4 linked regions of the Homo sapiens genome follow. The protein of the gene in region 1 interacts with the protein of each later gene in a biochemical or structural test. Each region holds a gene or a part of one and is shown in the gene's direction. Other genes may lie near its edges. The genes, in order: RAP1A, RGL4, RALGDS and RGS14.

What was found.
Region 2: the proteins of RAP1A (region 1) and RGL4 form a complex in vitro, tested with the Homo sapiens proteins (one study listed by BioGRID).
Region 3: the proteins of RAP1A (region 1) and RALGDS form a complex in vitro, tested with the Homo sapiens proteins (one study listed by BioGRID).
Region 4: the proteins of RAP1A (region 1) and RGS14 form a complex in vitro, tested with the Homo sapiens proteins (one study listed by BioGRID).

Annotation. Positions count from the first base shown.
Region 1 is NC_000001.11:111,615,091-111,622,788, forward strand, and holds the start of RAP1A (ras-related protein Rap-1A precursor), read left to right. Parts: upstream 1-4,698; 5' UTR 4,699-4,844; exon of another isoform or gene 4,845-5,308; intron 5,309-7,698. UniProt on the Homo sapiens protein: Counteracts the mitogenic function of Ras, at least partly because it can interact with Ras GAPs and RAF in a competitive manner. Together with ITGB1BP1, regulates KRIT1 localization to microtubules and membranes.
Region 2 is NC_000022.11:23,686,905-23,694,034, forward strand, and holds the start of RGL4 (ral-GDS-related protein), read left to right. Parts: upstream 1-4,108; 5' UTR 4,109-5,126; coding exon 5,127-5,305; intron 5,306-5,430; coding exon 5,431-5,624; intron 5,625-5,764; coding exon 5,765-6,087; intron 6,088-6,854; coding exon 6,855-7,070; intron 7,071-7,130.
Region 3 is NC_000009.12:133,097,229-133,104,264, reverse strand, and holds the end of RALGDS (ral guanine nucleotide dissociation stimulator), read left to right. Parts: coding exon 1-2; intron 3-431; coding exon 432-518; intron 519-1,002; coding exon 1,003-1,035; intron 1,036-1,364; coding exon 1,365-1,486; intron 1,487-1,693; coding exon 1,694-1,789; intron 1,790-2,125; coding exon 2,126-2,327; intron 2,328-2,502; coding exon 2,503-2,745; intron 2,746-3,882; coding exon 3,883-3,997; intron 3,998-5,502; coding exon 5,503-5,678; 3' UTR 5,679-6,543; downstream 6,544-7,036. UniProt on the Homo sapiens protein: Functions as a guanine nucleotide exchange factor (GEF) activating either RalA or RalB GTPases and plays an important role in intracellular transport. Interacts and acts as an effector molecule for R-Ras, H-Ras, K-Ras, and Rap.
Region 4 is NC_000005.10:177,367,904-177,373,112, forward strand, and holds the end of RGS14 (regulator of G-protein signaling 14), read left to right. Parts: intron 1-253; coding exon 254-363; intron 364-813; coding exon 814-1,017; intron 1,018-2,684; coding exon of another isoform or gene 2,685-2,687; coding exon 2,688-2,761; intron 2,762-3,001; coding exon 3,002-3,128; intron 3,129-3,261; coding exon 3,262-3,343; intron 3,344-3,446; coding exon 3,447-3,493; intron 3,494-3,571; coding exon 3,572-3,686; intron 3,687-3,969; coding exon 3,970-4,172; 3' UTR 4,173-4,693; downstream 4,694-5,209.

The DNA of each region.
Region 1 (7,698 bases):
GTAAAAAGTTAGTAGGAGTTACAGCAAGTAGTTTGATATACATGTAAGGGTATAGTGAAAGGTAAGGCTAGAAAAGTGGGATGGAGATACACAATTGGGCAAGTGCCAGATTGAGCAGTTTGTACTAAATTTGATGGGGAACTACTGATAGTTTTTAAAATAGGGTGGAGTCATGATCTGGACAATGCTTCAGGAAGATGGTTTTGGCAAGAACACAAGACGGACTGAAGGGAAGGCAACCAAGCAGGAGACCAAACAGGAGATCACAGCAAAAGTCTCGACCTAGGTTAACCAATACCTGACCTAGGGTCGTGGCAATAGAGCTAGAGAGGTGGGGGCAGCTGGAAGGGCCATTGTGTAGAAAGTATAGTATTTATACCTGTGCAGTCCAATATAGCAGCTCCTAATTAAGGCTCTTTAAATGCAACTTTAATTAAAATTAAATAGGATTTAAAATTCAGGCCAGGCGTGGTGGCTCACGCCTGTAATCCCAGCACTTTGGGAGGCTGAGGCAGGCAGATCATGAGGTCAGGAGATTGAGACCATCCTGGCCAACATGGTGAAACCCCGCCTCTACTAAAAATAAAAAAATTAGCTGGCCGTGGTGGCCTGTGCCTGTAGTCCCAGCTACTCGGGAGGCTGAAGCAGGAGAATCGCTTGAACCTGGGAGGTGGAGGTTGCAGTGAGCCAAGACCGTGCCACTGCACTCCAGCCTGGTGACAGAGTGAGACTCTGTCTCAAAAAAAAAAAAAAAAAAAAAATTTACTTCCTCAGTTGCATTAGCTGCATTTAAAGTGCTCAATAGCCATATGTAACTCCTGTTTTGGACTATGCAGATAAAGAACATTTCCATCACAGTGCAATGTTTATTGAACAGTGCAGCTCACTATGCTTTAGGGACTAATTAGGCATAGAATGAGGAAGATGGATTAAAGGAGGCTTCGGTTTGGCAGCTGAGTGACTGAGAAAGGTAGTGCCATGAACAGAAAAGAGGAAGTCAGGAAGAGGAGGAGCTGGATTTAGGAAGAAAGGTGTTTAGTTTCTGTCAAATACTAGGCCAGATAAAGTGTCTACCCAAATCATCAGATATCCCTGGTGAAAGGAAAGGGCAGGGAAAGCAAAGTGCCCATTGGGTTCTCCCAAAGCTTGTAAAGGAGCCCTGGGAGGATTTAATTGGTTTATCTCCTCCTGCACTCAGTTTCTCCTGTTTGTGCAGCTCCCTGAAGATTATGAGTGGGCAATCCAGTTCCTCAACCTCTCCAAACCAATGGTTCACATATACCGTGATGAGGACAGAAGCCCAAGGGCTTTGCTGTTTCCTTAGCTCCTTGGAGCCAGCTTGAACCTTTTTCTCACAGATGCTTTGTGCTTCCTGTCCCCTAACCGCCTTACTCACCCTTCCCCATGCTCAACTTTTGGAAAGTCCCCTTGGCCTCACTTGTTTGATTACTTCCTCTCAAACTACTTCTCACAGGGACCACAGCAAACCATTGACTCTACCACTTTTTACTTGCCCTGTCTTCCCTCCCAGCTTAAATTCCAAGGTCTATCACTATAATCACTCCCTTACATAATACTCCTACCCCTCTCATAGGCTTTCCCCAGCAAAACTCAGACCTGGTCAAATACAATTCTCCTCCAACCCCCAAGCAATGGAGTGTGGCTGGAGGAGAATCACACGGCCTTGCTGAGTGGTCTCACTTTAATGTATGATCATCAACTCAAGAGGGCCCTCAGCACTGTCCATGCTAAGCTTCTCTAGTCACTTTTCCACTCTTCAAGGAGATTATTTCTCACCTTCTTCTATCTCCTTTAATAGCCAACAGCTTTTCATTGCATAGAGAACAGATCTTACCTCATCAATCCCAGTGAGGCAGCCAGTACATATGGCACTCAGTGGAAACTGGGAAAAGGTCCATACGTGTGTGTGTGGGTATGCATGTGTGTGTATGCGCATGTGTGTGTGTTTGCGCATGTGTGTGTGTTATATGCAGGATGCTAACATGCACCACCTCTCCTGGTGGAGCAATCAGAAAAGTACCCCTTCCTCCAGGCTGATGTGACCCCACCAGGGCACGTGGCTTTGTGGGCAAAACAAGGGCTACATTTCAGCTCCTACCTGCCGCCTCTGCTCTACAGGGGCCTGAGCGTGCCACAACCAAATGTACTGTCTAATCTATCTGCTTCTGCACCCAGACACTCTACCTTCTCTCCAGAAACAGTGTGTGAATGCATTCCCTTACTCCTATCCTAGGCCAACCCTTTCACTTCTGTGCTAGATCCAATTGCTTCTCACCTATTTGAGGACACTCTTTCTCCAGTTGTCTCCTCTTGCCTTCTGTGTCATCAATTTTACCTCTCTTACAGAGTCTCGCTCTGTTGCCCAGGCTGGAGTGCAGTGGCGCGATCTCGGCTCACTGCAAGTTCCGCCTTCCAGGTTCATGCCATTCTCCTGCCTCAGCCTCCTGAGTAGCTGGGACTACAGGCGCCTGCCACCACGCCTGGCTAATTTTTTTTGTATTTTTAGTAGAGATGGGGTTTCACCGTGTTAGCCAGGATGGTCTCGATCTCCTGACCTCGTGATCCACCCGCCTTGGCCTCCCAAAGTGCTGGGATTACAGGTGTGAGCCACCACGCCTGGCCCAATTTTACCTCTCTAAAGAATCATTCCAGCTGGGCGCAGTGGCTCACACCTGTAATCCCAACACTTTGGGAGGCCGAGGCGGGTGGATCACCTGAGGTTGGGAATTCGAGACCAGCCTGGCCAACGTGGAGAAACCCCGTCTCTAATAAAAACACAAAATTAGCCAGGTGTGGTGGCACATGACTGTAATCCCAGCTGCTTTGGAGGCTGAGACAGGAGAATCGCTCGAACCAGGGAGTTGGAGGTTGCAGTGAGCGGAGATCACACCACTGCACTCCAGCCTAGCAACAGAGCAAGACTCCGCCTCAAAAAAAAAAAAATCATTCCAGCATACTAAAATGAGAAAAAGCATTTCTCATCTTAAAATATCCTCCCTTGATCTCAAGTACCTCTCTGGCTACTGCCCTTTTCTCCTTCAAAGCAAAGCCTCTCAAGAGCTGTTTAGAACACTTTCTCTTCCTCACCTCCCATCCTATTAACATACCCTAATCAGACTTTCTCCCCTATGACTCCACTGAAACTGTTTTCATCAAGGTCATCAGCAACTTCATCAGGCCACATCCAGTGTTCAAATTCTCAGTCCTTATCTTACTAATTTCAGCAGTATCTGATAAGACTCTTCACTCTCTCCTTCCTGAAACAATTATCTTGTTTTCCAACGCTTCACCTTCTCTTGGTGTTTCTCCTGCCCTGACTGGTAGCGCCTCCTTTTCTACTTAACCTTCAAGTGTTGGAGTGCCTCTTGGTCCTTTCCTTCAGCTATCTCCCCTCCCCATGTGATCCTAACTAGACTTAAGACTTAAAAAGTATCTATTTGCTAATGAATCCCAAATGTATCTCTCTAGACTCATATATCGATTGTTTATTCAATATCTCCATTTGGATGTATAACAGACACCTTAAACATAACATGTGTAAGAAAAGACTCTTGATTTCCCCATCCCCAAATCTGCTCCTCCATTTCATTAAGTGGCACCGCCATTAACTCAGTCATCAGGCCCGAACCTAAGAATCAACTCTTGATTTCTTTTTGTTCTTTCACACACTATGCCCCAAATCCAAATCCATTCCAATCAAAATGTATCTAAATAAAATAAAATAAAATAAAATAGCCTTCTTCTCATCCTGTCCGTGGCTGCCAGGCTAGTTAGTCCAAGCTACCTTACTGGTATCCCAAGGACATCTGTGCTTCTCCATTGTGTATTTTACACACATCAGCAAGACTAACTTTTAACAACATGAATCAGATGCGGTCATTCCTCGGCTCACCCTTCTCTCATGGTTTCCCGTTCCTGTTATAATGGCCCACAGGCTTCACTGGATCTGGCCAAGCCTAGCTGGTACTGCTCTCGGGCTGGCTGACGCTGCTCAGCCATGCCGGCCTTTCACTGTTTCTGCAACATGGCAGGCGTATCCCCACCTCTGGGTTTATGGCTGATTTTCTCTCAGCTTGGAAAGGCTATTCCTCCTCCAGGCCCGCGTGTTTGCAAGACTTATTCCTTCATCCCGTGTGTATGCGCTCAAAGGTCTTCTTTGAGAGGCAGTATCTCACCAGGTGTAAAGTCACCCTATCCTCTGCTTTATTTTTCTCCACACCACTTATCACTACCTGCAATTTTTGTCACTTGTTTGTTGTCTGTCTCCCCTCTCTCACTCCACCAGCATGCAAGCTGCAAGAGGGTCTTTGCCTGTCTATGACTTTAAACCTCTGCGCTTAGTTAGAACAGCGCCTGGAACCTAACAGGTGCTCAATTAGGGCTTGTCGAATGATTGAGTTCCCTCCAAATTCTCTTCTTGAATCTTTGGACCCTTCCTCATCTTTTTTCCGGTCTTACCCACCTCCCATCCCGCCCTACGCAAAGCTAAAACTCCCCGCCCCTTCCCGGTAGCTCCAGGCTTTCCCGGCTCCAGTGTGCGCGGCTCCTTTAAGCGGACTCCGGAACGCCGTGGGGAAGGCGGGGCCGAAGCCCAGCCATCGCCAACTTGGAGGGGCGGGGCAGAACCAGGGGGCGGGGCCTGCGTGGTGCGTGCGTGCGCGTTCTGGAGGAGGCGCCGCCGCCGCTCCCGAGGCCCCTGCCGCCGCCGCTCCCGCTGCTGTCGCCGCGCAGAGCCGGAGCAGGAGCCACGGCCGAGAGGAGGGAGGAGGAGGAGGAGGAGGTGGAGGAGGTGGAGGAGGTGGAGGAGGCGCCGGACCGGGGGGGTGAGTAAGGGGCGGGGAGCTCCAGACGGCCCCAGAGGGAGCGGGGGGCGCGGGTCGGCCGAGCCGAGGGTGAGGCGGCTCATGTCGCCGGTCAGTCGCCTGGCTCCCCCTTCCTCCTCCGCGTTCCATCGGTGTCGGGGCGGCGGCCCGGGGGCCTGGCCGGCGGGAGGGGCCGGAGATCTGGGAGGCCCGGCCGCCGCCAGGGCCAGAGCCAACCACGCCCGCGGACCGACCCGGTCGACTGTAGGCCTGCGGGAGACCGTCGGGAGGGGCCCCGGCCGGCTGTGGGAGAGAAAGAGGACATTGTGTCCCCCACCCTTCAGCTCCCCGAGGTGTCATAGCACAAGCCCATTTCCCTCGCCGTCTCCCCAGACACGGTGCCCTCGTACCTCACTGCCTGAGAGAAGTAGAAGGTTGGACATCGCTGCCTTCCTCCTCTTGCATGTCCCCTGTCTAGGGTCAGAGCTTCCTTCAAACCCAGCTCTCCCTTTTGGGCCCGCGGGGGCGGGGGGGAGGGACACACGGGGAACGGGGTTGGAGGGTTGGGTGAATTCTCTGTCCTCTGCTGTAGGAGTGCGGGTAGACTGGAGCATTGCTGTCTCCGGGCTCACTTCTGTCAGGGTTCAGGGTCTCCCTTTCCTTCCTTTATTCCCCCAGTTAATAGGGCTGACATCTACATCCCACTCCACCTTCCAGCCCCTTTCCCGCCTTCTTTACCCTCATGTCTTCCGTAGCTTACCATGTGTTCGCCTTTTCAGTGTTACTTTTCATGGGTCTCTGCTTCTTCCCTGAATTTTGTTAGGGAAGAGGTCACGGTGTGATTCTTGTTATCCTTCAAACTAGCGGCTTGGTAAGAGTATCTCTTGCCCCCTTAATCAGGAAGTTAAGGACGGTGTCTTCAGCCGAGTTGTGTAATTTACTGCTACGGGGAGAAGATGAGAGGAAGACATTTGTGCCTACAAAATGGGATCTCCTCTTAGGGCTGAGAACCAGAGTTTAGGGAACCTTTGACCTCTTGGAAAAAGAACTGCCATTGAGGAGTAATGCATTCTGTTTTGGGAGGGAAAATCATTTTGTTACTTCTTTGAAGGGAGGAGGTATAAGAAATGAAATAGAATAATAGAGCAGAAGGTCAATGAGCCACAGCCCTACAGGTAGCCAGCCACTCTTCTTAGGTGGCGGATGATGTTTTTGTTTTGATTACAGTAAGAATAAAGTATCAGCTCTTAGATTTAACTTGGGGCTCCTACCTTCAAAAGCATGAAGGGCCGTCTCAGAAGAGATGCTGCTGGAAACAGGATTTGGAAACTTTCTTTGGGTTTCCTGTCAGAATGTGTGGGGGTGGACATGCCTATGTGTAGTTTTTCTTTCCTTGTGATGTAATTTATTTCTGTGATACTTTGACATAATAAGCATTAAATTAGGCCCCAGACTTTCTGTCTTTATTATGCTTTCCTATAACATTGTTGTTTTGAAATCATATAGTTCGATATTCTTTTGTAGCGTGATATTTCAGTGAATCCTGTCTAGTTTTCTTGGTGTTTTAAATTATGGCCTACTTCAGATACGATTAGCTGTTAGGTATTGAGGATCATACGTGTTAAGTATTTGTTGAATGAATTGAATGATTACAAAGATGAGTCTAGTTATTAAATCTTCTGTCCTTTTGAGAGGTACCCTATATTAGGATACTGCAGTCCATTTCCAGTTTGTAAGATAGTAATTCTTAACCTTTTCTAGGCCACTGACACCTTTGAGAATATGATGAAATATATAAACTCTCTCCCCAGAATAAAGTTAATAGGCATTTATTCACAAAATTTTGCATTAGTTTTAGGGACCCTCTGAGGCCAACCATGAACTTATGTCTTAGAAGTGAACTGGATGGAATCCCTCAGTGTTACACAGTTCCATATTAAAACAGCTCAAAAGCCTTTGTTCACTTTTTGTATGGCTTCAAGAAGGACAGTATCTACACTTAATATACCCCAGAAGACAGGTATATTCATATACGTTGTTCCTGTAGTCCTTCTGAAAATGAATCCCAAGGAAATATTCCAAAAGAAAGAAAATGTTGTATATGCACATGTTCATTTAATTATTTTAATAGATGGGAAGAAAAGGAAACTACTTGCCCAACAGCAGAAAGATACACAATTTTGCAATCACTGAAAAAGGTTAGAAGTGAAGATTATTAATCTCCTAATTGATCTTCCAGCTTCCACTCTTGCCCCTCCACCCCAAGTTGATTTCCACACAGCAGCTACAATGATGCTCACAAACTTCAGAACAAGTCTCTCTTCTATTCAAAACCCTCCAGTGTTTTCCCATCTCATTCACAGTAGAATCCAAAGTTCTTACCATGGCCTACAAGCCTTACAGCTGCCCAGCTATTTCCCTAATCTCAAGCCCCTTTACTTTTCCTCTTGCTTACTGTACTCCAGCCACACTGGCCTCCTACATCCCAAAAAGGTCAAATACACTGAGGTGTCTGCACTTAATGTCCTCTCTGCCTGTAACCTTTTTCCCCAAGGCAGTATATATCCCTCACTTCTTCAGGTCTCTGCACCAGTCTCAGGTCTTCCCTTACTACCCTTCCCTGCCACTGTTTCTATCCTCTCACCCTACCTTATACTCTTAAGACTAGGTTATACTGATTTTGACAGCCACAGTTGTTGACAAACATTCCATGGTAATGTCGCTTGTATACTTGCATTGGACATTATTGTTTAACATTTAAAAAATAATGTCAGTCATAAAAAGATAACTTTCAGATTGTTAAGTTGAATTTTTCAATAGCTCACATTTAAATTTTGGATGTTAGCTTACCTCTCTTCAACATTTAACTACAGGA
Region 2 (7,130 bases), on another chromosome or scaffold:
CCACTGATGTGGGCAGCTGATCTCTCCGGTTTGCTGGGCTCTCACCCTCTGCCCAATGGCACCAAGTTAACTTCTTCGCATGCTTTATTTTCTGTGATTAAAAAGGGAAACAATTCTCACTAACGCCATTTCTCAGAGGAGAAAACAGGCACAGGGATGTTCTATGACTTCCTCACGATCACCAAGCTACAAGGGGGAGCTGGGCTTTGAATGGAGGTCTACCCATGCTCCTAAAGTTGAGGCGTCCTCCAAGGAAAGGACAGCACCTATAAAAGCTCAATGAATGGGGCGGCAGTGTCACCACTAAGCCCGACCACGCTGCTACTCTGATATCCAACTTCCAGCCTCCAGAACAGGGAGAAATACAGTTCTGTTTTTGATGAGCTCCCCAGGCCGTTACAGCTCTTTCTTTGCTGTAACAGCCTGAACTAGCCCAGAAGTGCTATTCCATCATCTGTGTCATATTCCATCATTCAGAAGGGAGTCACTAACCCCTCAGTGCTGTCTCTGTGGACGCTGCCCACCCTAGGCTGAGATGAGGCACAGGGTCTGGGTCTAAATAAAATGGGAAGGCACTGGAAGGTGCAATGTCATAGGAGGAGGATGTCTGAATTTCATTTAATCTCAACCTCTACTGGTGCAGCATGAAAGATGAGGCCCAGAGCAAAAGTGTCTTTTCCCGAGATCACACTGTGGACCCCAGGCCCACTGGAGTTGCATTAGACGTTACCTCTCACCCCTTCTTGTATTTGTTCCATTTCTAAGTGTGTGCAATATCCACAGGGAACACCACACCATGAGTTTTTAAATATTTATCTCAAACATAACCTCATGAGTTCCCTAGGAAAGAGATGCTAGCATAACCCCCATTGTGCATGCTGGGGAGACCCCAAAACACCAAAGGAGTTCTCTAGGGTCTCACAACTGCTAAAATAAAGGCTGTTTGACCCAGCACTGTCTCCTCAAACCTGGGACCCTGGTTATATCCAGGTCTTCCCAAGGTGCTGAAGGGGCACACTTTTTCATAATGGTGACTACGTAAGGAGTTGACGGGGGAGGGTGAGCGGTCAGAAGCCCAGAGGGGCCTTTGAGTAGGACTTATGGAAAGGAGGAGCTTACAGGATGGAACCTACAAGATGTGACCTCACTTCCTTGCCGACAGACCCCCAACAGAACTTACAATTCTGGTAACTAGGCACCCACATTCTAGAGACAGCCCCATTTCCAGCTCACTTCGTAGGCGATGCTCGAGAGAACAACATGTTCTCCTGCTGTATCCCGACATGCTGCCGACCTCCTCGTCGCACAAGAGGCCAAAATGAGAGTCTTTCCCGAGAATATAGACATTGGTTCAACCCTCACCCTCGACGCCTCTGGCCCTTTGCCAGAAGGCACCCACAGGTAACACAGGGCCCAGGGCAGGCCCATCCAGGCTAGGCCTCAGCTGTGCCCATCAGGGCAGCCTCAGGCCCCTCCCCACTTGTTTGGGGGAAACAGGAGATGAGGGGCCCTCCCTGGATAGGAGCAGGTAGGTTGTCAGGTGTTTGGAGCCTGGTAGGTATGTCAGGTTCACAGCCCAGGCAGTGCCTGGCAGGATGGGAAGGTGAGTGTCAAGGACACAGTTTGTCTGCTCAGATCTGAATCCCAAGTCCTCAAGCTGTCATCTGCCGGAGACCTCAGGCTTCTCTGGCTGGAGGTCTATGCAGATGCTCCTATGTGCCAAATCCTGTTGGGGAAGGGGGTGCCAGGGATGAGTTCTAATGGGGGTGTCCCACTGTGGGGTCAGCCAGACAGGCCACTGACACCTCTTGGCCCGGCTCTCGGGCACTCTCTTTGCAGAGCTCCACACAACAGACCAAACAAGAGCTGTTGGATGGATTCAATTTCTCCATATTCTTCAAAGGGCACGTGCACCACACCACCAACCACGTCCAGTGCCGGTCTGCGGTGAGATTGGGCACAGAAGGGTCTCCACAGACAGGACTTGTGAAAACCAAGGTGGGCCCAGGACTCAGACACGAATATGGGGACTCCCTAAGCTCCATCCTAGGGCGTTCCCACTTGAGTGACCCACTGTCCTCTCCCAAAGGAATCTGGCTGCCATTAGTCCCCAGTGGCAACTTGGTTACAGGCAAAGTCCCTTTCACCTATCAGAGGAAGACCAGAGAAAATCCTTCTGTTTTCACTTTAGGCTATGCCAGGAGTATCTCGGCATGTTGCTTTAAGAATTGAGTACAATGGTAACATTGCAGCAAAATACTCACACTGTTATCATTTTAACTCCCCACCCTAAGTGGATCTCCGGCAACAGGCAGGCAGCTCCGCTGCCCTGCCAGACCTCCTCCAGGACTTAAAATCCAACACTTTTGCACAAACAAGGGGTGGGGGTGGGGGGGGTGCATTGATTACAACAAAAGAAGGTGAAGCGACTCTATGCATTAGTCTTTAAAGTGTCATCTCACAGAACTCATCCCTGCAGCCCCATCAGGCAGGAGTTGTACCCTCGCATGTCATTGTAACATTCCTTAAGGGAGGCCATTTTCCACAGCGGGTCAGCCTCTCAGTGCTGGTGGAGCCTGTCATGATAAAATTCCCTTTCGAGGCAGCCTTTCTACAAGGAGCATAATCCTATGCGTGTCCTAATAGGCTGGAGCAGTTTGCCAGGGCTGCCATAACACGGCACCCTGACTGAAGGGCTTAACCACAGAAATCTGGTTCCTCACAATTCTGGAGACTGGAAGTCCAACGTCAAACTGTCAGCCTGGGGTGGTTTCTCTGGGCCTCTCTCCTTGCCTTGGAGATGGCGGACTTCTATCTCAGTCAGCACAGGGTCTTCTCTTGAACTTCTCTGTGCGCTGACCCCCTCTCCTTGTAAGAACCCCAGGCATGTTAAATTAGGGGCCACCCTAATGAACTCACTTCACCTGAATTACCTCTTGGAGTACTCTGTGTCCAGACACAGTCACATTCTGAGTCTCTGGGGTTGAGAATAGAAACAGTTACATTTGGGGAAGGGGACACAATTCAACCCATAAAATAAACAAATCCCCTGCAGCAGACAGACACCCAGGAAAGGGATATCTGGGTGAAAGGATATGCAGATATCAACTTTCAACAGCTCTAGCTAGTTGACTTTCCAAAAGGGCTCCAGCTGGTCACACGGTCACCAGCAGCCTCTGAAGGTAGCTGCTTCTCTGAACGCAGCCTCCCCTGAATACTAACACGCTTTTAACTTTTCGCCAACCTGCTGTCTGTGTGGCAGAGAAAATCCTTGTTTCATTTCCACTTTCAAACATACATTTGCGTAACCTTTCACGGGTTCAATACCTGCCTGCGTTTTCCCCAAGTCGCCTCGCAGATCCTGGGCCTTGGGACGCGCTTCCTCCCACCCTGGAGTCTTCCGGCATTTTCCCCTTGGCCAGGGCTGGGATGGCCGTAGCTGTTTCTCCAGACTCACGTTCATGTTAAAGGAACAAAAACAATCATATACCTTTAAGTCAAAGAGTTCTTCTAGAGCGTATTGTCCTGTGTGCTGTTGCTGAAATGAGGAGGGGATGAGGCCTCCCCAGGCCTTGAGGACTTGCAGGGATGATGCTCTTCATGCAGGTTGCTGACACAGAGGGTGCTGTTGCCCCACAGCTGACAAACACCGGGACGATGCCTTGAAGGCAGGAATCGTTTTATCATTCTCCATCCTCACATGCAATGTTACTTTGAAAGCCTAGAACGCTTTTCACCATGGGCACCCAGGTTCTCCATATGCACAAGTCCCTGAAGGGTTGGTGCTTCTTGGTGTGAGTTCCAGATCCCGATCCTCTGGTGGTCCATGGTGTTACCACTGACTCCCATGTCCCTCCTTGTCCCCCTAGTATGAAAATGAGATCTGCAGGATGCTAACTTTCCAGCCCGGCACTGGGGAGAAGCTGTTGGGAGTCCCTGGTTCCAGCCTTTCTAACTAAACCCATCTCCTCCTATGCCACCTGCCTGGGCCCCTCCTGGGACTTTATCACTGTGCCACACTTTTTGGAACTACTGGTTAGAAGGTGAGTGTCCATCCCCCTCCAAGACACAGAGGTGCCTCTGTCCCCTACTGGCTCTGTCTTGAAGATGCACCTCTCGGAGCCTCGGTTGGCTCCTCTGGAACAGGGAGTAGTGAGAAGACGAACCTCACAGGGTTCTTGTAGGGACTCAATGATCTAAGACACAGCAAACAAAGGGGTCCCTAGAGCCTAAAACTCTGGAAAATCTGCTGGGGGTGCTGTGATTCATGTTTGTTACTTTTCTCTTCCCCCTCACTTGAAGCAGCTCTCAGCATTCTGCCTCAATGGCCTGTATCACTCACTGTTTGGAAAAACACATAGAAACCAAGTCTGCGATGGCACTGGTAAAGGATGTCTGAGATTCCTTCTGGCTGGTCTTTCTCCTTGACACAGACAGAAGAGGGGTCCCTTGGTGCTGAAAAAGGAGCCACAGGCCCACTCAGACATCTGGAGAGGCTCACTGGGGTTCTCCAAAGGTTGGGGTTCACTCATTCAACACATACATTCAAAACACCTCATTTGTGCATCGCTCTTCTTGGGGCTTGGCATAATTTCATAAACAAAGCAGATGACAATCCCCCGGCCTTGATTCTACTCAGAGTCAGGCACTCACAGTAGACAGAATAAACAAGTCATATCTACAGAATGTTACAGGTGAGACCCTCATGGCCTCCTCTACGTATGGTGGCATCCTCCCAGATTCTGACTAGAATGACGCAGCCCAGCAACAAATATAAACTGGGTGGATTTAGGGTTCTGAAGGGCCTTTTCACCCACAAAACATGGGGGAAAATATGTGGACTCTGGCTGGGGAGAGACTAAAGGAGCTCTGGGGCTCATACTTCTTATAATTCCCACGAGAAGGCTGACATCTGGGGACTTCCCCCACAAGAGGCAAATAGTGAGTTCTGTAAATGGAGACTTAGGTCCCCTGCAAAGCAGAGGGGAGGCTGGGGTCACAGCTGGCCACTGAGAGACCCATCCCCCTCAGCACCGTGGCTTCCCAGCTCTCCCTGTCCTCCTCCCCCCGACATCTGCCCCTTCCCTCCTAACCCCAGGACCAGGGGACCCAGATCTGGAGCTTTGATGAGGAAGCTGCTCACAAATCTGCCTGCAGCTGCAGTCTTGAGTGCCCAGGTGTACAGTGCTGTGCTCCAGGGCCTTTGGGAAGAGAATGTCTGTGGGACGCCAGGGCGCACGAGGGTCTGTACAGCCCTGCTGTATGGCCAGGTCTGCCCCTTCCAGGACAGCACTGATGGCTTACGGTAGGGTGGGGCTGTCCTCCACACTGGCAGCAACAGGCCAGGGACCCAGAACCACGCAGGGGTGCCCTGGAGGGTTGTGTGGGAGAAGGCCAGGCCTCTGACTCAGCTGTCTACTCCATCACCAGCACCATCACCTCCATTTTGTTCAACTGGCCCCCCGAAAACACTTCAGTTTACTATCAGCCCCCGCAACGGTCATCTTTCCGGATAAAGCTGGCCTTCAGGAACCTCTCCTGGCCTGGACTGGGCTTGGAGGACCATCAGGAAATTGTCCTAGGCCAGTTGGTGCTTCCGGAGCCCAACGAGGCCAAGCCAGATGGTGAGGGGGCTTGCAGTCTGCAAGACTTTCCGGGGGTGGTGTTTTGGGGCTACAATTCCCTTAAATTCCACCCGGTCATTTCTGTGCTTGGAAAACCCAGTGAAAAATGACTGGTGTGGTGACCTTTTCTCCTTTTCCAGATCCTGCTCCACGTCCTGGGCAACACGCATTAACAATGCCGGCCCTGGAGCCAGCACCACCACTGCTGGCGGACCTGGGGCCTGCTCTGGAGCCAGAGTCACCTGCAGCCCTGGGTCCACCAGGATATCTACATTCAGCACCAGGGCCAGCACCAGCACCAGGGGAAGGGCCCCCTCCAGGGACAGTGCTGGAGCCACAGTCAGCCCCAGAGTCCTCCTGTCCCTGTCGTGGGTCTGTAAAGAACCAACCCAGTGAGGAGCTGCCTGACATGACGACCTTCCCTCCCAGGCTGCTGGCAGAGCAGCTGACCCTCATGGATGCGGTGAGCAGCTGAGCTTTGCAGGCTGTGTCTCTGGCACCAGCTGTCTCAGACCAGCCTCTCCCTGAGGAGCAGCCAATGCCCTCGGTCCAATTTCAGCCCCACTTCTTACCAACCGTGGGATCTGGATGAGTTTCCTCACCCACAAGCCTTCCCTGTCTGCATGTGGACGGCAGAGATGGGACATCACCAGCGCCAGCTGCACAGAGTGACTGTGCAGACTGAGTGACAGGAGATGGACAGAAAGCAGGGCAGGGCAGGTGCTCACTGTGGGGCAGGCAGGGCCATGGGTCACTCACCCAGCTGCTCAGGAGCCTCACTACCCTCAGCACTTATTAGGTACCTGATGCATACTGGATTCTATGGTAGACACCCAAACAGAGCCCATAGTTGCAGCTGCCACAAGGAAAGTGCACCGGTACGGAGAGGAGTAGTAGAGGGCTGATTGGGATGGGAGGAAGACGAGGCCTCAGGATGGGCAGGCCTGAGCCACCTTCTAGTTCTTAGAGTGTGGATGGCCTGGGAGAAAATGTCACTCTCTCTTCCCACCCTTGTTGGGTTCTAGGCCATGATGCATTCAGGTCCCTCGGGGGCAGAAAACCAAACCCAGGGACTCCCACAAGTCTGGAGCCCATTTTAAAGCTTTCTGAGCTCCAGCTTGGTTCCTGCCAGAGACCGTGGATGACTGTGAGCTCAGTCCCTGCCTGGGACTGTGGGTGACTCTGAGCTGCAGTGTGCTGTGTCCGTGACACTCTCCTCCTCCCCCAAAGGAGCTGTTCAAGAAGGTGGTGCTCCACGAATGCTTGGGCTGCATCTGGGGCCAAGGACATCTGAAGGGGAATGAGCACATGGCACCCACAGTTCGTGCCACCATCGCACACTTCAACAGGCTCACCAACTGCATCACCACCTCCTGCCTCGGGGACCACAGCATGAGGGCCCGGGACAGGGCCAGGGTGGTGGAGCACTGGATCAAGGTGGCCAGGGTAAGCTATGGTTGGGCCTGGGGATTCCCTCTTTAAAAATGGGGAACTTCCTCTTCTCCT
Region 3 (7,036 bases), on another chromosome or scaffold:
CGGTGAGAGTGCCCAAGGCCGCGGAGGGGCAGGGGGCTGGCCTGGGGGTAGGGAGGAGGGCCCTTTCCTCTCTAGCCACGGTGCCTATGGGCCCCATTAGAGGTAGCCTCCTCTGGACCCTAGCAGAGCCACACCTGGATCAGCTGGTATCTGGGAAGACCAGCTGCAGCCACGAAAGGACAGGCCTGGCAGAGCCGGCTCAGGCGGGTGTGGGGCTGGGGAGGGCCAGGGGCCACACGACTTGGGAACCTGGCATTTCCCAGATGCCAGCCAGGGAGATGGCTAGAGGGAGTCTGGGGTCCAGGGAGACAGTGGGCCCCAGGAGGCCCCCAGAGGTCCCCCAGCTGTTCCAAGTGAGACCAGTTGGGGCTGGGGGCTGAGAAAGCCTTCAGGGGAGGGGCCTTGCTCATCCTCCTACCCCAATGTCACAGGGCATCATCCAGGGCACCGTTCCCTACCTGGGCACGTTCCTCACCGACCTGGTGATGCTGGACACTGCCATGAAGGACTATCTGTATGTGAGTGTGCCGGGCGGGGCTGGAGTAGGGCCCGGGAGGAGAGACCTTCCCTGAGCCCTGGGGGCTGGGCTGCCACACCTGTCCCAGCAATGAGTAAACAGCTCAGTGCCCTGCTGGTGACACCCCAGGGCTGCCCAAACACAGAGCTGCAGCAGGGTTTGGCTGAGTGGGACACAGCCCATCCCTCAGGCAGTGACCCTGAGCACAGAGGGAAGCCAGGCCCTCAGCGGTCAGGCGGCACGTGGTGGCTGAGCAGGGCCTTCTCACCCAAGGCCTCAGTCCATTGTCCTCCGAGAGTGCTGGACAAGAAGTCCCCAAGCCTCTGCCCGCATGTCCCCTTGCCCTGGTGCCCAGCACCGGCTTCAATCCAGGGGTGTGCGTGCCCTGCCCCCTGGTGGGCACTCTTGATAGTGCAGCATGAGGTGGGGAGACTGTAATGGTCAAGGGGTCACTTTCTGACGGCCATTGGGTGTCCACCTTCCAGGGCAGACTCATCAACTTTGAGAAGAGGAGGAAGGTAAGCAGCTGCAGGCAGCCCTGACTTGGGGAGGGGTGGAAAACAGACCCACCAGGGTAGGACATTTCAACTCCTACCCTCTCCTTAGATTCATGGGACATGGGACATTTGGACACAGAGAGAAGGGGGTCCCCTCCCACTGGAGGGTGAGGGTAGGAGGTTATAATCCAGGACCACCTCCTGGGGAGTGGCTGAGCCCAACTTTGAGAACAGGAAGGCCTGGATGGGAGTAGAGGGGAGGAAGGGACCCCAAGAACAAAGACCCAGAGACTGGCCCCTGTGCTGCCCGGGGGGCCTTGTCACCGCCCTGTGCTTCCCTCTGGCCCCAGGAGTTCGAGGTGATCGCCCAGATCAAGCTGCTGCAGTCGGCCTGCAACAACTACAGCATCGCGCCAGATGAGCAATTTGGGGCCTGGTTCCGGGCCGTGGAGCGGCTCAGCGAGACTGAGAGGTGAGGCCGGGGCAGCAAATGGGGACAGTGGGGGCAGGCTGTCCTAGGGGGCCAGCTCCAGAGGGCCAGCAGCTATGACCCATGGTCAGCCTCAGCCCCTGTTGCCTGAGGATGGCCGGGGCACCCCGACTCCAGCTTCTGGGCAGGTGCTGGGGGAAGGCCGGAGCATGGCCCCTGGTTGTCACACCACTGCCCCTCTGCTCATAGCTACAACCTGTCGTGCGAGCTGGAGCCCCCATCCGAGTCAGCCAGCAACACCCTCAGGACCAAGAAGAACACAGCCATTGTCAAGCGCTGGAGCGAGTAAGGGCCTGGCCAAGGGTGGTAGGGGCAGCTGCCTTGGGGCTCAGAAGCTTCAGGGCTGAGCCTGGGCTCAGGGAGTCAGGGAGGCTGGCCCTGGAATCCTACCCTGCTGCTGACTGGCCCTGAGACTGGGATGAGTCCCCTCACCTTTTTGGGCCTCAGTTTCCTCCTCTGTGAAATGGGGTGATACTAAATGCTCTCCCAGATGGCTGTGGTGAATGGAGTACTGGCAACTGTCCCAGCACTTTGCACAGTCCTTGGGCGCAGGGTGCAGGGGCTGTGGGGTTGGGATGTGTCCTTGGGGAGCCCCCTTAACTAAGCCAACTCTTCACCCAGCCGCCAGGCCCCCAGCACTGAGCTCAGTACCAGTGGCAGCTCCCACTCCAAGTCCTGTGACCAGCTCAGGTGTGGCCCCTACCTCAGCAGCGGGGACATCGCTGACGCGCTCAGCGTGCACTCGGCCGGCTCCTCTAGCTCCGACGTGGAGGAGATCAACATCAGCTTCGTCCCGGAGTCTCCTGATGGCCAGGAAAAGAAGGTGACTGCCTGCCCTTCTCCCCAATATCCTTTCCCATCTCCCCACTCCAAATCCATGCATGGGGCCAGGAAGCCCTGGATCCTGAACACAGCTTCTAGAAGGTTCCCCATCTGGCAGCTGGCCTGGGGTGCCCCCACAGGGCAGTGGGATCTGCTGATCTTACCGTCTCCCTCAGTTCTGGGAATCAGCCTCACAGTCATCCCCGGAGACCTCCGGCATCAGCTCAGCCTCCAGCAGCACCTCGTCCTCCTCAGCCTCCACCACGCCCGTGGCTGCCACACGCACCCACAAGCGCTCTGTCTCAGGGCTCTGCAACTCCAGCTCCGCGCTGCCGCTCTACAACCAGCAGGTGGGCGACTGCTGTATCATCCGCGTCAGCCTGGACGTGGACAATGGCAACATGTACAAGAGCATCCTGGTAAGCCGGCGGGGGTGGCCTGGGTGCCTCCCTCCACTGGCGGCAAATGCACCCTGAACACAGTGCACCATCCCTGCCCTCCCGGGGTCTACCTTGTAGTTGGCGGGGAAGGACAGATGTCAGCCAGGTACAGAAATGAAGAAGGTAGTGATCAGGGACAAGGCTGGCCTGAGGGCAGAGGGGGAGGAAAGGAGCAGCCGTGCAAAGCCCCCAGGAGCTGAAGGGGCGGTGCTGTAGGGGAGGTGAGGTCAGGGAAGTATCCAGGGCCTGGCCACATAGGCCCTGAGCCCTGCCAGGACCTCGACTTTCTCGGGGAGGAAGACAGGAGCAATGATGGCTGGCTTCTCTGTCTGGTGTGGGCTGGTACCAGAGCCGCAGGGGTGTTGGTTAGGAGGCCGCTGTGGCAACCAGGCTGGGAGCCCTGGAAGGGGCCAGCAGGGTCAGAGTCTAGACAGGATTTGGAGACAGCAGATGGGAATTGCTCACAGAATGGGTTTGCCTGGGGGCTCTTTCTTCATCCTCCAGGTGTCCTGCGACAGATGAACCATTTGTAACCCCCACCCTCTGTACCCCAGCCCTGGGTCAGGTGCCCCATTATTCACACACGCTCCTGACCCCTCATTGCCAGGAGCTAGCATGGTTGTCATTAAGCAGTCACCTGTGGCCCTATGTCCGAGTTCCGCCTGTGCTCTGGCCCTCAGGGTCAAGGTAGCAGGGGCCTGGCCTATGCTGACCACACTGAGCATCCTGGCCGGCCCCTCCTTTCTTACCTCCAGGGCTTGGACTAGGGACTGTCTGTTCCCCAGGCTCAGTGATGCTGTTATCCTGGAGGGGCAAGTGCTTCTCAAGGAAGTGTGGGAGGAGGGAACAGTCTCTTACAGGAGAAGCAGGGTAGGCACTGCTGGGACAGACCCCTCCTCATTCCATGGAGGCCTCACATGGGGAACAGAAGGACGGAGGCCTCACTTGGGGAGTAGGAGAATGTGACAAGGCCCTCTCCGGACCCAGCACCTGGCCAGAGGCTGTGAGTGCCTGTGCTTGGTGCTGAGGGGACTCCAGAGGGTCCTTGGCCACTGCACTCTGGGGGAGCCGCTCCAGGGTCTTTTCCCTGATGGTCCATCCCCCGCCGCGATGCAGGTGACCAGCCAAGATAAGGCTCCGGCTGTAATCCGCAAGGCCATGGACAAACACAACCTGGAGGAGGAGGAGCCGGAGGACTATGAGCTGCTGCAGATTCTCTCAGATGACCGGAGTAAGTCAGAAGACCAGAGGGCGATGGCAGAGGGGGCAGGTCCACACCACTCCCCAGCCCCAGGTTGGAAGCCTTTGGCCCCAGAAAATTCACCAGCAGAGTGTGGGTAGACACTGTGGACAGGGCAGCCCTGGCTGCCCCCATTGTCTGCTTGCTGTCCCCAGCAACCACTGGACCTCCCCAGTGTGTGCCCTTCCCTAGGCGTGAACAGGCAGTTCAAAGCTCACATCAGTGAGGAGCAAAGAGAAAAGGCATTTTTCACTGGGACAGGTTAGCCACGTGGCCCACTGGAAGGGACTCTTTCTGGCTAAGACAAGAAAACATGTGCTCTACAAAGAATGGTGACAGCTGTGGACCAAAGTGTCAAGTGTTAAAATCCATGAGTGTGTGATTCTAAAAGCAGAACAGGCTACTAGGAGGCCAACTCAGTATTCTAGAAACTGGGAAAGTGTCAAGAACCAGTGCAGGCTCAGAGTGGGGTATCCTGGGCCTGGAGACGCTGGGCAAGCTCCTTAAGCCCTCTGTGCTTGTCTTCTCATCCCCCAAATGGAAATGAAAGTAGCCAGTGTGTTCATCATATATGTAAAAATCTATATGTATGTATATATGTGTATATGTATGTATATATGTGTATATATATGCATGTATATGTGTGTGTATATATATGCATGTATATGTGTGTGTATATATATGCATGTATATATAAAGCATCTATGTGCACCATAAAAGTTAACTATAAATACTATCATCGCTGTTTTCTTTCCAGTGAGCTGAACACCACCTCCCACCATTAGCCCAGACAGTAAGCAATGACTCCTGTGATCCCTAGAAGTTACAGTCTAAATCCTCTGGCAGCTTCTTGCACCATTTCGGTTAGGTGGGCAGGGTAGGCGGGACCCCCATCTTACAGAAAAGGAAGACTGAGGCCTAGAGAGGTTAAAGATGACGAAAAGCCACACGATGTCGGCAGGAGCACAAATCGAGCCCAGCTCTGGTTTATAGCAGGCTGTGGGCCAGAGGAGATGGTGGGAAATGGAGCCAAAAGGAAGTGCTTGCCGGGTGCCAGGGTTCAAGGAGTACAGGCCTCCCTGGAACGGGCGCCAGAGCCCTGGGGCAGGCCTGTCCTTTCCTGGTCCTTGGATCCCTTGTCCTGAGTAGGGCAGGATTCTGGGAGGTGACCTGGATTCTAGAAAGCCTGTTCCAGGTGGGCAGCCAGCACTGCAGTATGGGCAGGACGGGGTGACCCTCTGCCAGCTCAGGCCAAGCCGGGGGGTTCTGGAGTCAGTCCCTGTTTAAACAAGAGTCATCAGGTTTTGTGAGGACCTCAGCAGAGTCTGTCCTCAGGCAGGAGTCATTGAGAGGGGTCCTTGGAGTTCTGGAGCTGTATTGGAGGGGATCTGAGGTCTGTGGCTCAAGACAGTCCTTGTATGGGCTCTCAAGCGGTAGGGGTATCCTGCAGGGCCCCCAGGAGCATCCCTGATCACCCCTCTGCCCCTCCCCACCAGAGCTGAAGATCCCTGAAAACGCCAACGTCTTCTATGCCATGAACTCTACCGCCAACTATGACTTTGTCCTCAAGAAGCGGACCTTCACCAAGGGAGTGAAGGTCAAGCACGGAGCCAGCTCCACCCTCCCTCGCATGAAGCAGAAAGGACTCAAGATTGCCAAGGGCATCTTCTGAGGGCATCCTCCCAGGGTCTGGCTGGCTGGTAGCCAAGCACTTATGGACCAGAGTGGCCCAGGCCAGCTGGGCGCCTTCCTCCCACCTGCCAGCCCAGGGTACCCCAGACTCCAGTTTCATCCTGAACCTCTCCCGCTGCTGGGATTGACGCCTGCCATTGGTCAGGCTGACCTGGCCTCCCGTGGACCACTCGCTGCCTTAGGTGCCTTCTGCTCTCTGGAACCAGAGGACTAGCTGACTTTTGCCAAGGAGCAGTGCCAACGGGCATGGCATGGTGCCCTGCCTGCCCCCGGGCGCCACCTCTGTACACTTCCCTGACACCTTCCCAGGTGTGGGTCACTGCCACCTGTGCCCATGGGCACCCCAGAGCACCCACTGTGACCACTGCAGTTCTCTCATGCCCACAGGCACTGGCCTGTGACCTTCGCAGGGGTCCCGGCCCCTCCCACCACTCTAGCCTTTCTCAGGCTGCACCAAAGATTCCATCATCAGGGCCAACTGAGAGTGAGGGAGTCTCACCCACCGCTTACCCCAGCCCTCCCCTGGGAGCAGAGAGAGAAACCCTCTTCATGGACCAGACTCTGCACCCGGTGAGTGAGGACAGTCCCAGCTGAGTCCCATCGATGTTGAATCTCATGCCACTGCAAGTGCCATTCACCACTGCGTCCTGGGCTTTACGAGACCATGCAAGACGGGGGTTAGTGAGGAAGGAGGATTTGGGGTGGGGGTGGGGTGATTGAATATTTGTATAAAAAGCAAAAAGAAAAAAAAAATGTTTGTTTACTGATTGGGGAGGGGCAATATTTATTTGTTGTAAATAGCAAATGCTAGACTTGAATATTATATTAAAATCCTGTTTCTACTATACCCTGGTCATTACAGTTTTGTTCTTTCATTACCTGTCTTAATTAAAATGAGATAGAGACTCTCACATTCCGTGTTTAAGTAAGGACCCTTGCAGGGTTATCCAGTTATTTTATGCACAGGAAAAGCCAGCCACTCTTCTCAGCACACTGAAGGAAACACAAAAGTTTACCTTTCATACAGCAGATGTTCCTTTTGGCACCATTAAACTGGGAAATGTGCTGAGACAGCCCTCAGAACTCCTGGGACTAGAGTTTGGAGGTACTTTCACAAGGCATAGCAAGAATTTCTGAAATTTAGCTGTCTTTAAAAGTAACATTTGTGGCCAGGCGTGGTGGCTCATGCCTGTAATCCCAGCACTTTGGGAGGCCAAGGCAGGTGGATCATGAGGTCAGGAGATCGAGACCATCCTGGCTAACATGGTGAAACCCCATCTCTACTAAAAATAAAAAAAATTAGCCAGGCATGGTGCCAGGCACCTTTAATCCCAGCTA
Region 4 (5,209 bases), on another chromosome or scaffold:
CGTGGCCCACAGTCTGTAAGTCTGTGAAAATTGAAACCCAGGTCCCAGTGACCACCACACTCCCCTGGGTGGTTCGGGTCTTGGGCTAGACCTCAGACGTTTGGAAATCTCCAACGGTGGTGTCGCTCCCAGGGATTTACACCTGGGCCCCTGCAGGATGGCTCCAAACAAGGCCCACCAGTGGGGAACAGGCTTCCGCAGAGGATGGGTGAGGGCGGGGGGCTGTTCGCGTTCATCGCTCCCTCTTCACTAGAGCTGGGCGGGACTGCAAACGCCGCCTTGCGCCGAGAGTCTCAGGGCTCCCTCAACTCCTCCGCCAGCCTGGACCTTGGCTTCCTAGCCTTCGTCAGCAGCAAATCTGAGGTGAGCCGACTGTTGGGGAAGACAAGATGCTCTATGGGCTAGAGTCACTACTCAGGCCCATTTACGTGGTGGCCCTCATTCCAAGTTGCTGTCCTTACTGCGTCTCCCAGCTTGCTCTGCGTAGCCAACCCTTCAGCCTCCTTACTTGTCTCACTACATTGGTCCCCATATATGTCATGGGTACACATCCTCAGTTGGCAAATGTGTGCACATGTGCAGCACCCAGGTGTGTATACACAGCACGTGTGTGGGAATCAGCGGGTGGACCCGTCTCTAGGTGCCCATATGCCTGGGTGTGCATACATGTGTTCCTGCAGGAGGACGTATCTTTGCCTGCCTTGGGAGTGCGTGTGCATGCTTGAGCCCCAGCAAGCTTACCTATCTCTGTGTACCTGTGTGCATGCCCTTGCATGTGTACACATAATCTCCCCCACTCCTGCCATGAATCAGAGCCACCGGAAGAGCCTTGGGAGCACGGAGGGTGAAAGTGAAAGCCGGCCAGGGAAGTACTGCTGTGTGTACCTGCCCGATGGCACAGCCTCCTTGGCCCTGGCCAGACCTGGCCTCACCATCCGAGACATGCTGGCAGGGATCTGTGAGAAACGAGGCCTCTCTCTACCTGACATCAAGGTCTACCTGGTGGGCAATGAACAGGTGGGAACGTGACCTGGCTCCAACTCTAACCTCCTTCCTGATCCTGACCCCAACTCCATTTCTGTCTCTGCTCAGTCATGGCTCCAACCCCAATTCAAGTTCTAAACCCAACTCCAAAGCACCCTCAGCACCAACTTTCACTCACTCAGACATCCACCCACCCCCCACCTCATGTCCTTCCAGGTTTCCACCTTCATCCATCATCCTATTGTGGTGACCTTAGGGAGGTAAAACTGGAGAGAACCACTGTTGGAGCTGGGGTTTGCCCCTCATCATTCCCAGAGTCCAGACTCCCATCCCCACAGACCCATCCTGGAAATGGCCATCCGTGGGGTGCCCTCACCTCCTTAGCCTCTAGGGGCACCCAAGTGCACCTAACCAATGAACTTTTTCCTTTAGGTGCAAACTAGCTTAAACTTTAAAGAAGACCTAGGGGAAAACTGGCTTTAAAGGAAACCATTCAGTCAGGGGAATCTCAAGGAAGAATGCTACCTTCCAGGGGGCCATCGGGATTTCATTTACCTAGTAGACAAGTCCTAAGGCCTTGCCAGGTGTGTGGGGGAGAGGAACCTAGATCTGGGGCTGTCCTCCTGGCCCACAGGCTGAAAGTAAGCCAAGCAGGGAGTGATCAGGGAGGAGGAAGAGTGAAAACTCCAGAGAAGGTCTCTTGGGAGAGGGTAGGCATTTCTGGCTGGTGTCCGGAAGGCTTCATGGAAGAAGCAGCAGTAGATGTGGATGGGCAGAGCTGTGGGGGAGGATATTCCAGGCAGAGGGAACAGCTTAGGCAAAGGCCTGCAGGTGGGTACTTGCGGGGCATGTTCAGGGGCCTGGAGTGCAGGGGTGCGAGGGCAGTAGTGGGAGGCATTTTGCCCACTCTTCTCAGGCCGCTAGGGCGGCTGCCAGCAGCCCAGATGGGCTTTCATACATGCTAAATATAACTTCCTCACCCACACTCCACCTGCTCCTGCAGCACAGCATAAGCCTACTGCCTGGGAGATGCTGCCCCCAACCCCCACATCAGGCTGGAGCAGGCAGTGGGGCCTCTGAAGGTGGTCATCACGAGAGTTACTGTTTATGTACCTACTGTGTGCCAGGCATTGTGCCAGATGCTTCACATCCTCTGGTTTCACAGCAGTTTTGAGGGTGGGCCCTTTTTGAATGAGGAAACAAGAAGTGTCCTTAGTAGCGGGGAATGGAGAGAAGTGGACAAATGTCAAAAATGGGACCAGGCCAGGGTGGTTGGTCAAAGGTGGGTGGTGAGGGAGGAAATGCTTCCAGCTGGTCTGGTCGGATTTCACACACCTGAGGGACACGAGACAGCTGTCCTGGAGGCAGAGCCTGTCCTGGCACAGAAAGAGTAGGCCAGAGATCCCGGATCTAGGCCTGCCCCTTATCATTTCATGCCAGCAGCTACGTTTCTCGTAATTTCTGTCCTTTCCCAAGAATGTCCAGCATTCTTGCCACTTTTCTCCCTGGCCTTGGCTTTCCTGGGCTTGGACTCCAGCTTGGTACCTTAACCCATTTGCTCCCCTACAGCTCTTCCACCCTCCATCCCTTCCTCTAGGAAGCCCAGTGGTGGCCATGGGAGGGCGTGAAGTTGTTCTCAGACCCACAGGGATGGCTGGGGGTTGGGGGAGGGACTCTTAGACCCTGCCTGGCATCCACAGAAGGCCCTGGTCCTGGATCAGGACTGCACCGTGCTGGCGGATCAGGAAGTGCGGCTGGAAAACAGGATCACCTTCGAGTGAGTGTCCTGCCCCCAAGTCTGGGTCCCAGGTCCTGACGCTCCCTTCAGGCCCTGTTCTAGCTACCTGGCTCCCCAGGCCCCGCCCCTCGTGCTAGCCCCGCCCCTGGGACAAACCCCGCCCCCTACAAGCCAGTCCCACCTTCTGCAGTTCAAGCTCCACCCCCTCGCGTTTGTCCTGGGAAGGGTTTGGCGGGGGGCCGGCCCTCCGGCCCTCTGCTGCCCGAGGGTTCCTCGCAGGCTGGAGCTGACGGCGCTGGAGCGCGTGGTACGAATCTCAGCCAAGCCCACCAAGCGGCTGCAGGAGGCGCTGCAGCCCATTCTGGAGAAGCACGGCTTGAGCCCGCTAGAGGTGGTGCTGCACCGGGTGAGCTTCCGGGCCGCGGGGCGGGGCGGGGCGGGGCCGGGCCGGGGCCGGGGCCGGGGCCGGGGCCGGGGCCGGGGCCGGGGCCGGGGCCGGGCGGAGGCCTGTACCGCGGGCTGCTGACCTCTCCCCACAGCCAGGCGAGAAACAGCCTCTGGATCTGGGGAAGCTAGTGAGCTCGGTGGCGGCCCAGAGACTGGTTTTGGACACTCTTCCAGGTAGGGGACGCTGGCCTCGGGGCTTGATCTGGAACAGCTGTGGCCCAGGAGGAAGGGGGTCCAGGTGGGAGGCAAACACTAACTGTGGCCCTCTCTGCTGCAGGTGTGAAGATCTCCAAAGCCCGTGACAAATCTCCCTGCCGCAGCCAGGTGAGCGAAAGGCGAGTGGCCTCTTCCACCCTCTGCTTCTCCCCTCCCGATTTTGGCTCTGACCCCAAATTCTCGCAGGGCTGCCCACCTAGAACTCAGGATAAGGCCACCCATCCCCCTCCAGCGTCCCCCAGTTCTCTGGTGAAGGTGCCCAGTAGTGCCACTGGAAAGCGGCAGACCTGTGACATCGAAGGTACATGGTGGATGAGCTGGGGATCAGAAAGACTAGGGCAGTGGGGTTGGGGACCATTCAGGGTGGCATCAGAGAGCCTTGAGCTAAGGCAGGGGGCTGGGTGCCACTGGGCGTGGAACAGGAAGGATGGGGGTTGGGGGGTCAAAGGGGCTGGAACAGGGGGCCGCAGGCCATTGGTGCTGGGGCCAGGGAGGCAGTGGCCACAGTAAGGCAGTGGGACTATCGTGGGCTGGCATATAGGCAGGTCTGCTGGGGGGACCCTCATGCTGTGGCTTGCCTCCAGGCCTGGTGGAGCTGCTGAACCGGGTGCAGAGCAGCGGGGCCCACGACCAGAGGGGCCTTCTGAGGAAAGAGGACCTGGTACTTCCAGAATTTCTGCAGCTGCCCGCCCAAGGGCCCAGCTCCGAGGAGACCCCACCACAGACCAAATCAGCAGCCCAGCCCATCGGGGGATCCTTGAACTCCACCACCGACTCAGCCCTCTGACAGCTACCCAACAGTCCAGGACAGCTGCATGGCACCCGGCGGGCCGAGCATGCCATGGGTCCGCTCTGCATGCCCTGTCTGTGCCATGAGTGTCCCTGGCCCCTTCCTGCCATGGGCAGGCCCGCAGGAAGAGCCGGTAGGGGTGGAAAGGGGACTCAGATGAGACACACCCCACAGCTGCCACCGCCTTGTCCCTCAACAAGCTCACCCCCAATCCCTTGCAGCCAGGCCACAATGGGGGAGGTGAGTCCAGCCCCTTGGAACAGGCTTGCCCAACATGGAGGGATGGCGTTGGCAGTGCCAGCCTCCCCAGCCTGTGCCAAGCTTCAACAGGGGCAAGAGGAGGGGCCGGCCCCTCCTCAGGAAGCTGGTATGAGTAAGGCCTTGAGGGTGCAGGCAGGCAGCCCTGTACCCCACCCACATAGACTATACTGTACATACAGATTTTGCAGTAGGCTTGGGGCAGCTGGGTTTGTCCTTGATGTATGATACTGTTATTATAATAATTATTATTATTCTGCCATGAGTTGTCTTCCTTGTGTGCCAGACTGTCCTGTGGCTTCCCCCACCCTCAAAACACACTACTTCTGTCACCAAGGTCAGTGCCAGGAAACTCTTGGGGACCTCAGGATGTGCCTCCTGACTTCCTGTTTTCAGAACCTCTCTTCCTGACTGCACAGTATATGGGGTGGTGTGTGAATATCTTATAGTATTTTTTTTTTTAAGAATATGGGAGCTGGGTGAGGTGGCTCACACCTGTAATCCCAGCACTTTGGGAGACCAAGGGGGGTGGGGGTGGATCGCTTGAGCTCAGGAGTTTGAGACCAGTCTGGGCAACATGTCAAAACTCTGTCTCTACCAAAAATACAAAAAATTACCTGGGTGTGGTGGTGCATGCCTGTGGTCCCAGCTACTTGGGAGACAGGTGGAAGAGGATCACTTGAGCCCGGAAGGCGAAGGTTGCAGTGAGCCGAGATCGTGCCACCGCACTCCAGCCTGGATGACAGAGTGAGACCTGTCATGGTGTGGAGGTGAGA